Linked DNA regions of Homo sapiens: region 1 is linked to region 2. Evidence: fine-mapped expression QTL. Tissue or cell type: whole blood. Region 2 holds a variant in brackets; the other region holds the start of a gene. All regions are shown on one strand. Distances are between the middles of the regions.

What was found. PIP is the estimated chance that this variant, and not a neighbour inherited with it, causes the effect.
Region 1: it holds the start of THBS4, and the variant in region 2 is fine-mapped to the expression of THBS4 in whole blood (TOPMed, PIP above 0.99).

Annotation. Positions count from the first base shown.
Region 1 is chr5:80,033,130-80,037,295 of GRCh38, reverse strand. It overlaps THBS4 (thrombospondin 4), which reads right to left and starts at 1,948. Exons shown (of 22, transcript NM_003248.6): 1 at 1,671-1,948. The coding sequence starts at 1,758. It also overlaps the pseudogene TRMT112P2.
Region 2 is chr5:80,065,585-80,069,750 of GRCh38, reverse strand. THBS4 (thrombospondin 4) reads right to left here. Exons shown (of 22, transcript NM_003248.6): 10 at 1,626-1,778. THBS4-AS1 (THBS4 antisense RNA 1) reads left to right here. Exons shown (of 8, transcript NR_109930.1): 7 at 977-1,237; 8 at 1,870-3,402. Among named protein-coding and RNA genes, the nearest start is that of THBS4-AS1, 16 kb to the left of the region's middle. The variant G/A (reference allele first, on the strand shown) is at 1,714.

The sequences.
Region 1 (4,166 bases), 32 kb after region 2:
AACTTAATCAGATCATCTACAGCAACTAAATTACCCAGATAATTTAGGTTGTATAGGCCGAGTTCAAATCTCCATAAAATGGTCAGGTATGTCTGAGACATACCTAAGGCACACCATAAAGCTGTATGTTCAAAAGTCAAGAACGTATATAACACAAAAAAATTATACCTATAAATTTGAACTTGCCAAATATCATCACAATAAGACTTTTGAAGTGTTTAAAAGCTTCCTTTTTTACCTTCCTAGAAGTATGGGGCACGGACTACAGCATTTCAAATACTTCAACACAAACTAAAAGTTAGCAGTACTCTAACCCCTGAAACCACAGTTCTGGTTGTCTGGTCTGGAATGAAAATGAGTTATTTGGCGAAATGCAGTTTAAATGGGTGATTCCAGCAGCGAGAGGCAGGGAAGTTGAGAACGCCCTCATAGGCAGTCTTTGCTCTGGCTACAAGAGGAAAAACAACTTTTACTTCAAGTTGTGCGTCTCTTCCAGTTTTACTTCCACAGTCAGTAATAAATCAACCCAGGCACCAAGTTCAAACAGATGAAGCTCACGCCTGACCAGTTAGGGCCAGTTATAGCCCTAAGATCTTTCTTTGCTTAAATCATGTCTTCCTTTTGGTCTTTACAAAAAATTCTGTTTAACTGCTTTCTACCCAATGGCTATTTCACCCCATTTCACCAAGGGGTTTGAGGATTGTCCAAGTATCTTTTCACATTATTTGTTGAATTTTTACCGTTTCATAGAAAAAGATCAATTTCTTTCTTTTTTCTTTTTAAATTATAGATTCAGAGGGTACATGTGCAAGTTTGTTACATGGGTGCATTGCATAAGGTGGGATTTGAGCTTCTAGTGAACACATCACCCAGTGAACGTAGTACCCAATTGGTAGTTTTCCCAACCTTCCCCCCTACTTTTGGAGTCCCCAGTGTCTACTGTTTCCATCTTTATGTCCATATCTATCCACTGCTTAGCTCCCGCTTGTGAGAACATGGTATTTGCTTTTCTGTTCCTGCCTTAATCCACTTAGGAAAATGGCCTCCAGCTGCATCCATCTTGCTGCAAAGAACTGATTTCATTGAAAAAGACCAGTTTCTCAGCCCTTCCTATTTACCTCAGAAATTAAGACATCAAGCCAATCCTTGAAATAAACTTTCTTTTTGTCGTTCAAGCAAAGTCAGAGCAGAAAATGCAGGTGGCAGGGCAAGTAGAGTAATTCTGCGTCTTTCTCAGGGATGTCAAGAGCAGACTCTGGGCATACATCGCTCCGCCTGAGGAAGGATTTAGGGAGCAAGGCTGCCTGGAGGGAACCGGCACAGGGTGCAGGACCCGGAATTCACCCTACACCAGAGCCTAACATGTTAAGAGGTCTAGGACCGTGTAGCAAGTTTTGAAGGCAACCCCACCCCACATCTTTGCATAGTCTGAAACAATTTTGCATCCCCCAACTATTTAGGCAATTGTTCTCATCATTGGATAATCGAATTTCGGAAAATTCTAGACTAATCACTACCTCCAATCACAATATGCTTTGATTGGGCCCGGGAGGGACAGAGAGGGGCTGAGCAAGGCCACAGGAGCACAGGGCCGAGCAAGTCCCTCCACTCACTCAGCAGATGGGGCACCCGGTGCCCGGCGCTCCCAGGCCCGACCCGAACCCACTTACCCTGGGGGGTGGCCTGGGCGCCTGCCGCTAGCCACCGCTGCAGGACCAGGTGCAGCAGGAGGACGGCGGCTCCGCGCGGGGCCAGCATGTTGGCTCTTCCTGCTCCCCGCGAGGCCGGGGGCGACGGCGGCGTTGGCCCCGCCTGGGGGTCCCCGGGCCGTGCGTTGAACCTCGGTCGGCGCCCGGGCCGGCGCCGCAGGTGACCCGTGCTCGGCGTCCGGGCTGCCGTCGGGGGCGCGCTCGCGTCCCCGCCGTGCGGTGCTGGGGAGCTGGCTGCTGGGCTCCGCGGCAGCGGCCGGGCGCTTTATGGTGCGGCCGGGCGGGGGAGGGCCGGGGCGGGGGCGGCCCCCTTGGCGGGATCCCCTGTCCTGGGAAGAGCTGGGCAGCTGGAGCAGCGAGCCGGGGCCGCAGGGAGAAAGGCGCGGGTGTGAGGATGGGAAGGAGCCTGGACGGACCAGGTCCTGGGGTGGGTGTAGACACGGCCCCGACGCGCGAGGGTAGGGGCGAAGATGGGCAGTCGGGGCTGGAGAGAAAGGGGTGCTGAGCAGAGACCACAGGGGAGAAAGGAGCGGGAGGAAAGGGGCGAAAGGGAGGAAGAAAGTGACACTGACCCACTAGCTTTGGGCACCTTCAGTCCCCTACTCCTTGCGCTCCTTTTGTTTTCTAAAAAGAAGAATATCCTTTGGATCGGCTTTGAATGCCCACCTTGGGTTCCCTTGCGAATGAATCCTGAAGTTCTCCAGGAACGCTCTGCCTCCTAAAGTGGCCCAGAGAGCAGCGAGTTTCTTTTATTTCTTCAAGCTTTTCTTGAATACTTGAAAGGCTGAATTTTTTTCTCTATCATTTTGAGACACAGTGAAAGTTTGAAAGTTGTTGTGTTTTTAATGGAGATAAAACACATCTCAAGGAATCCATCCAGACAGAGCCATTTCTAGGCTGGTGAATCTGTGCTTTATGGATAATTCGTTTTCAGTATGGTTTCCAAACGCCCTGCTTGCCCACCTCTATTCCTCTGTCACCAAAGATTCCGTGTGACAGTTTAAAGGTACGGGAGTAGAACTTGAAAGAGATCGGAGGAACGCAAGTAATTCGTCCTTTTCCTGGGCAAAGCTCCCGGAATGATATGGATTAACTAGAGGAAAAAATATTTGATAAACAGTGGCAAAAATTTCTCCTCTGTAACAATCTCGACTAATGGAGAACATCCAGCAAAGTATTGCTATCTCTTTTATGTCTCAAATAATTCCATTTCAAAGTTTAATAAGCCACAAACTGGGAGATTAATGCACCATTTTATCCCCAAACTGTGCTAAAATAACCTGACACCAATTATCACTCAATTTACAGCTAGCGACTTGGAGATTTGTGAGCTATCTGCAGAGCTCTCTAATATGTAAGGTCCAATACAGGTCTATCCAGGGTTCCTTTAATGCCACATTACACTACAGTCACTCTTTGGAATGGGGCATATGTCTACACATGAGAGAACACTGAGAGACACAGAGGATGTGCATAAATATCGACTAATGAGATAAACTAGATTTGGGAACATTCAAATCTCCAGACCATGTTCCCAGGAGTGGCCTGGGTTTGAGAGGAATCTAGGCTCCCAAGCTACGCTTCAAGCAGAACAGCCTTGCCTTTCTATGTTTTTACAGTAGACTTCAGAGATTAAGATTTTCTGTGAAGACAATATTTGGATGCTCAAAATTTTGAAAGCCACTATTCAGTGGTTCTCAGCTGATTGGGTATACCAGAATCTCCTGGGGAATTTAAAAAACAGTGATTAGGTGCCTACAGGGAACAAATGAAACCAAACATCAAAAGCAGCAATATGCTATATCACACCATAGACTACTCTGATACATAAAATAGGGTTACTCCTTAAATGAGTCACCAAGCAAGCCTAGTGGATGCCTGTGAGAGTTCTTGTGTAGTGTGCCACCAGACACTGCCTGTTTCCTCTCAGATCTGGTGCTCACCTTCCACTGCATGCTTGTCAGCAGTCTAGATAAAATGGGAGACTAGAGAGCAATAAGAAGGTAGAAGGTAGACACTAGAGTATTTACTTCTCTGTGACCTGAATGGATGCATCTTCTTTGTGACTCTTGCAGGTGGGGTCCACCATGATTCTAGCTTCTGCCTTCTCACCATTTGCACCCTCCAGCCATGACATTGGAGGTCACTTACTGCAGTTGCTAAAATGTGGATTGCCTCACTCTTCTGTTTGACATCTCAGTTCTTCTACTATATATGTAATCATTTCCCTGTATTAAATTTCTTCTATTTAAAATACCTAGAGTATTTGCTAGGAATCTCCATGGTGAGGACAATGCACCACGTGCTGCTGGAGGTAGATGTGTTGGAGGGCACCCTGCAGTGCCCAGAGTCTGGACGTGTGTTCCCCATCAGCCGCAGGATCCCCAACATGCTGCTGAATGATGAGGAAACAGAGTTGATCATGCCAGGTGCCAGTTTTTCTTTTTATGACCGTGT
Region 2 (4,166 bases):
TTCCTGCTCACTTGCCCCAGCAGGGCCTTTGGAAGGCCTGGAAGGCTGATCCACGAGGCTGATCCTTGACTCACTTTAATGAGGAAAAAATGTCCTCTAGGAACAAATACATTTTTAATGAGCTATTTTCTGGCAGATTCAATTATTTTAGTAGTCACGCCAAGTTTATTAATCCTTTACCATCTGTCGTTGTGCCTTATTACAAATTCAAAAACATATTAAGAGCCCCATCACCCATCATCCCAGGGGAGTTGTCAATTTGTTCACAGAAAATGGGGATTTCAACAGAGATATACACTTGTTTCTCAATGACTGCTTTTTGGTAATAAACAAGCCCAACCATGAGGAATTCAGGAAATTGCTGGGGTTATTCCCCCTCTGATACACCACATTCTTCCATCTGACCTTGTTACAGAATATCTGTATTGCCAAGGAGGGCTGACTTCATTATATTTATTTATTAACTCATTTTTGACTCTTATTTTTCCTATTTGAAAAGTGGTAGGCTCATTGTGGAAAATTGTGTATGCATAAAGATAAAGAAGCATAACTTTGAGATAAAGATGGAAAAGGGCTCCGAGAATCCATCTTGCTACTCAGGGGTGATCACTGTGAACCAGTGACCCCAGAGTCTGACGGGCCACCGGCCGAGGGCCTGGCATCCCAGGAAGTGCAGAGGAGGGGGGCAGCTGAAGTCTGCTGATTTTTCAGTGCCTAGGATCCCCAGGACTTTGGATCCTTGGATTTGGGAATGGATGGCAGGCTGAGGACTCTGGATCCTTGGACTTGGGAATGGATGGCAGGCTGAGGACTCTGGATCCTTGGATTTGGGAATGGATGGCAGGCTGAGGACTCTGGATCCTTGGATTTGGGAATGGATGGCAGGAGCATGCCCTCTCCTTCACATAGGGCCCACTACAAGCTCAGCATGGGACCCATGTCAGGCCCTGCTGTGACTGCTCTACTCTCTTCCCAGCCTCCCCTCCCCAGACCAGCTCCGTGGCTGGAGAATGCACAGGAAGCGTGACCATTCATGGAGCTGTCCCTGATTGGAGTGGAGGTAGACATACAGCATGGCGCCGTCTGGCCCTGCCAGTCACCTGCCAAAGACGGAAGGTTTCTCCCGGAGGGACTATGACAGTCCCCACCTCTACACGATGGCCCACCCCCAACAGGAGCGTCAAGGCAGACAGACTCTGGAAGTTGTAAGGATGAGGACAGTTAGAGATGACAGCAGGTATGTTGTCATTATACAGGCAGGTAGATGGGGCAGAAGAAGGAAAGGGGAGAAGAATGTTCCTTCACCTCCCTGCTGCTGGCTTCTGGGCCTTTCCATAGAAGGTGCTTGGGAGCTGGGGCTTCACCGGAGGCTCTGGCATCCAGGTACCCAAGTGGACAGGGTTGCCCCCCAGCCAAGAGGGAGAGAAAAGGCAGCTGATGGTTAGATGGATGTCAGGCTGCTCCCCACAAACTCGGTGGACCCTGTTCCTATTACACTCCATGCTCATTTAATTGCAATGCTTTCATTTTGGAGTACTTTTACCCTGAAGCACATAGAAACTGGAGAGAGGTGGTGTTAAAAATGGAAGAGGAAAAATGATAGAGGAAGTCAAAAAACAACTTACCACACATGTCACATCCCCCTGCCTCTCTTCAATGCACTGGGCATTCACACTGCAAGGGTTCAGCTCTGGGTTTCTGCAGTTTCTTTCC[G/A]CTTTGCATCCCCTTATCTGATCACCAGTATACCCCGGCTTACAAGGCCCACAGCGGTAAGATCCCTGCAAGGAACAAAGATCAGGTGATGAGCTGAAAGCTGTGGGCAAAGGTACAGTTTGAGCAAAGGTACAGTTATTGTGTATATTTTCACAGGTACTCATTGCTGGCAGGAATCAGGCATCAGATCCATGCCTTCTTCTTTGCTTACATGTAAGATCATGTGAATGTTGATGAAAACACCATCAGACTGGAGGCTGCGTCCGGCCACTCAGACAAAGAAGGAATAGAAGTGAAGGAAGAAGGCTGGACTGTGAACCAATGACACTGAGTTGCCCGCGCCACCGTGGAGGGCATAGGGGACAGGTCAAAAGTTCCAGTGAAGTCCTGGGAGGTGGTGTGAGAAGTTTACTCTGGGGACAGGGAGATGATCTGCTTAAAAAGCAAGTTAATTTTTCTTATTGCTGTTCCTTTGGCTCTTTTACAATGGAATGACAAAGGAATGGGTGCACAGAGAAATGCTGGTGGCCTGCATTGAGAATTTCTGATGAGGTAGGCTGAGAAACTGACAAATGAGCTGTCAGCTCCGCTGCAATGACACTTCAGGGGCCAGGTTTTTTTAGCTTTTATATATATAATATATATTATCACACTGCACACTATATATGTAATAAATATTATACAATATGTTTAAAAAATGAAAATTAAAATTTTCATCTTTATTGAGGTATAATTGACAAAACTGAATATATTTAAAGTGTGCAGTGTGATGATGTGATATACGTATACATTGTGAAATGATTACCACAGTCAGTTAAGTAACACATCCATCAACTGACATAGTTACCTTCCTTTTTTTCTTTTTCAGTGAGAACACTTAAGATCTGCTCTCTTAGCAGATTTCATATATATAATATAGTATTATTAACTACAGTCACCATGCTGTACATTAGATCTTTTTCATCTTATGCAGTTTTATTGGCATAACATTTACAGGTCGTAAAAGACATCCATTTGAAGTATATATATTGTTTAATGATTTAAGTCACTCACAACCTCTTAGTTGCCAAATCCAATGCATGCTTTCCAATGACTTGTCTCGATCTTTCAGCCTCCCTGGCTGTGCTATCAGTTCGCTCCTTTTTCTGGCTTCTGCTCTTTTTCCTTGGCCTAGTCCTTCGTTTTTGGGGTTTCCTGGAGTTCTATTTACTGTCTACTTTCCTTCTCTCTAGGTGGCTCAGTTATTACCTTTACACCAAGATCTCGCAAATCTATTTGCAGACTACTTTGTCCTGGTAAAAGCTGAGAAGCAATAAATCCCCATCTATTCCTAAGCAATATAGCATTGCGGAGAAGAACTCAGGCTCTGTAGCCAACCTGGAAGATGTGTGACCTTAGTCTAAATACGTAACATTTCTTTTTTTTCTTTTTGGAGACAGGGTCTCCCTCTGTCACCCAGGTTAGAGTGCAGTGGCGATCACAGCTCACTGTAGCCTCAAACTACTCTTGTACCCAAATGATCCTTCGGCCTCAGCCTCCTGAGGAGCTGGGACTATAGGCATGCTCCACCATGCCTGGACTTAATGATGTAATATTTCTGTCCCTCAGTTTCTTCAATTGTAAAATGGGGATAATAATAATCCCTGTTTATGAGGTTGTTGTGAGGATTAAAATAAGTGACTTGATAAATGTAAAGTGTTTTTACTTACAAGGAAACAAGGAACCTAGAGGCTGGATAACTTTCAAATAGTCATACACGTAATCAGTAGTTCTTTTCTTGATAGTCAACTCTGGTACATCTCTCATCTTGGACACAGTTTGACAGGAACTTTCAGAAATAAAACCCATATCTGAATACTTAAGTTATAGGCATCCCTAAGTGCTAAGCACTTTAATTTAATACAATGAAAAGTTTTGAAAAGTTTTTTTTTTTTTTTTTTTTTGAGAGGGAGTCTTGCTCTGTCGCCCAGGCTGGAGTGCAGTGGTGCGATCTCGGCTCACTGCAAGCTCCGCCTGCCGGGTTCATGTCATTCTCCTGCTTCAGCCTCCAGAGTAGCTGGGACTACAGGCACCCGCCACCAGGCCCGGCTAATTTTGTTTTCTATTTTTAGTAGAGACGGGGTTTAACCATGTTAGCCAGGATGGTCTCGATCTCCTGACCCCATGATTGAAAGTTTTATGAAAATAAATAATGCCATTTGGGGATTGTGTAGTCACCAGTAAAATACTGAACTATTAATATAAACTACCAAGCTCTTCACAATTTTAAAATACAGGAGTAATAATTATTTACTCAATAAATAGTTATCTAATAGCCTAATATTGCAACTTTGATAGAAAATAAAGAACTTGGCACTTATAAAATTATTCTTACATAAAAATTACTTTTAAAATTACTCATATTAAACACTTTTTCAGCACAAACTTTTGCCTTTATTCTGCCAATCAAATAT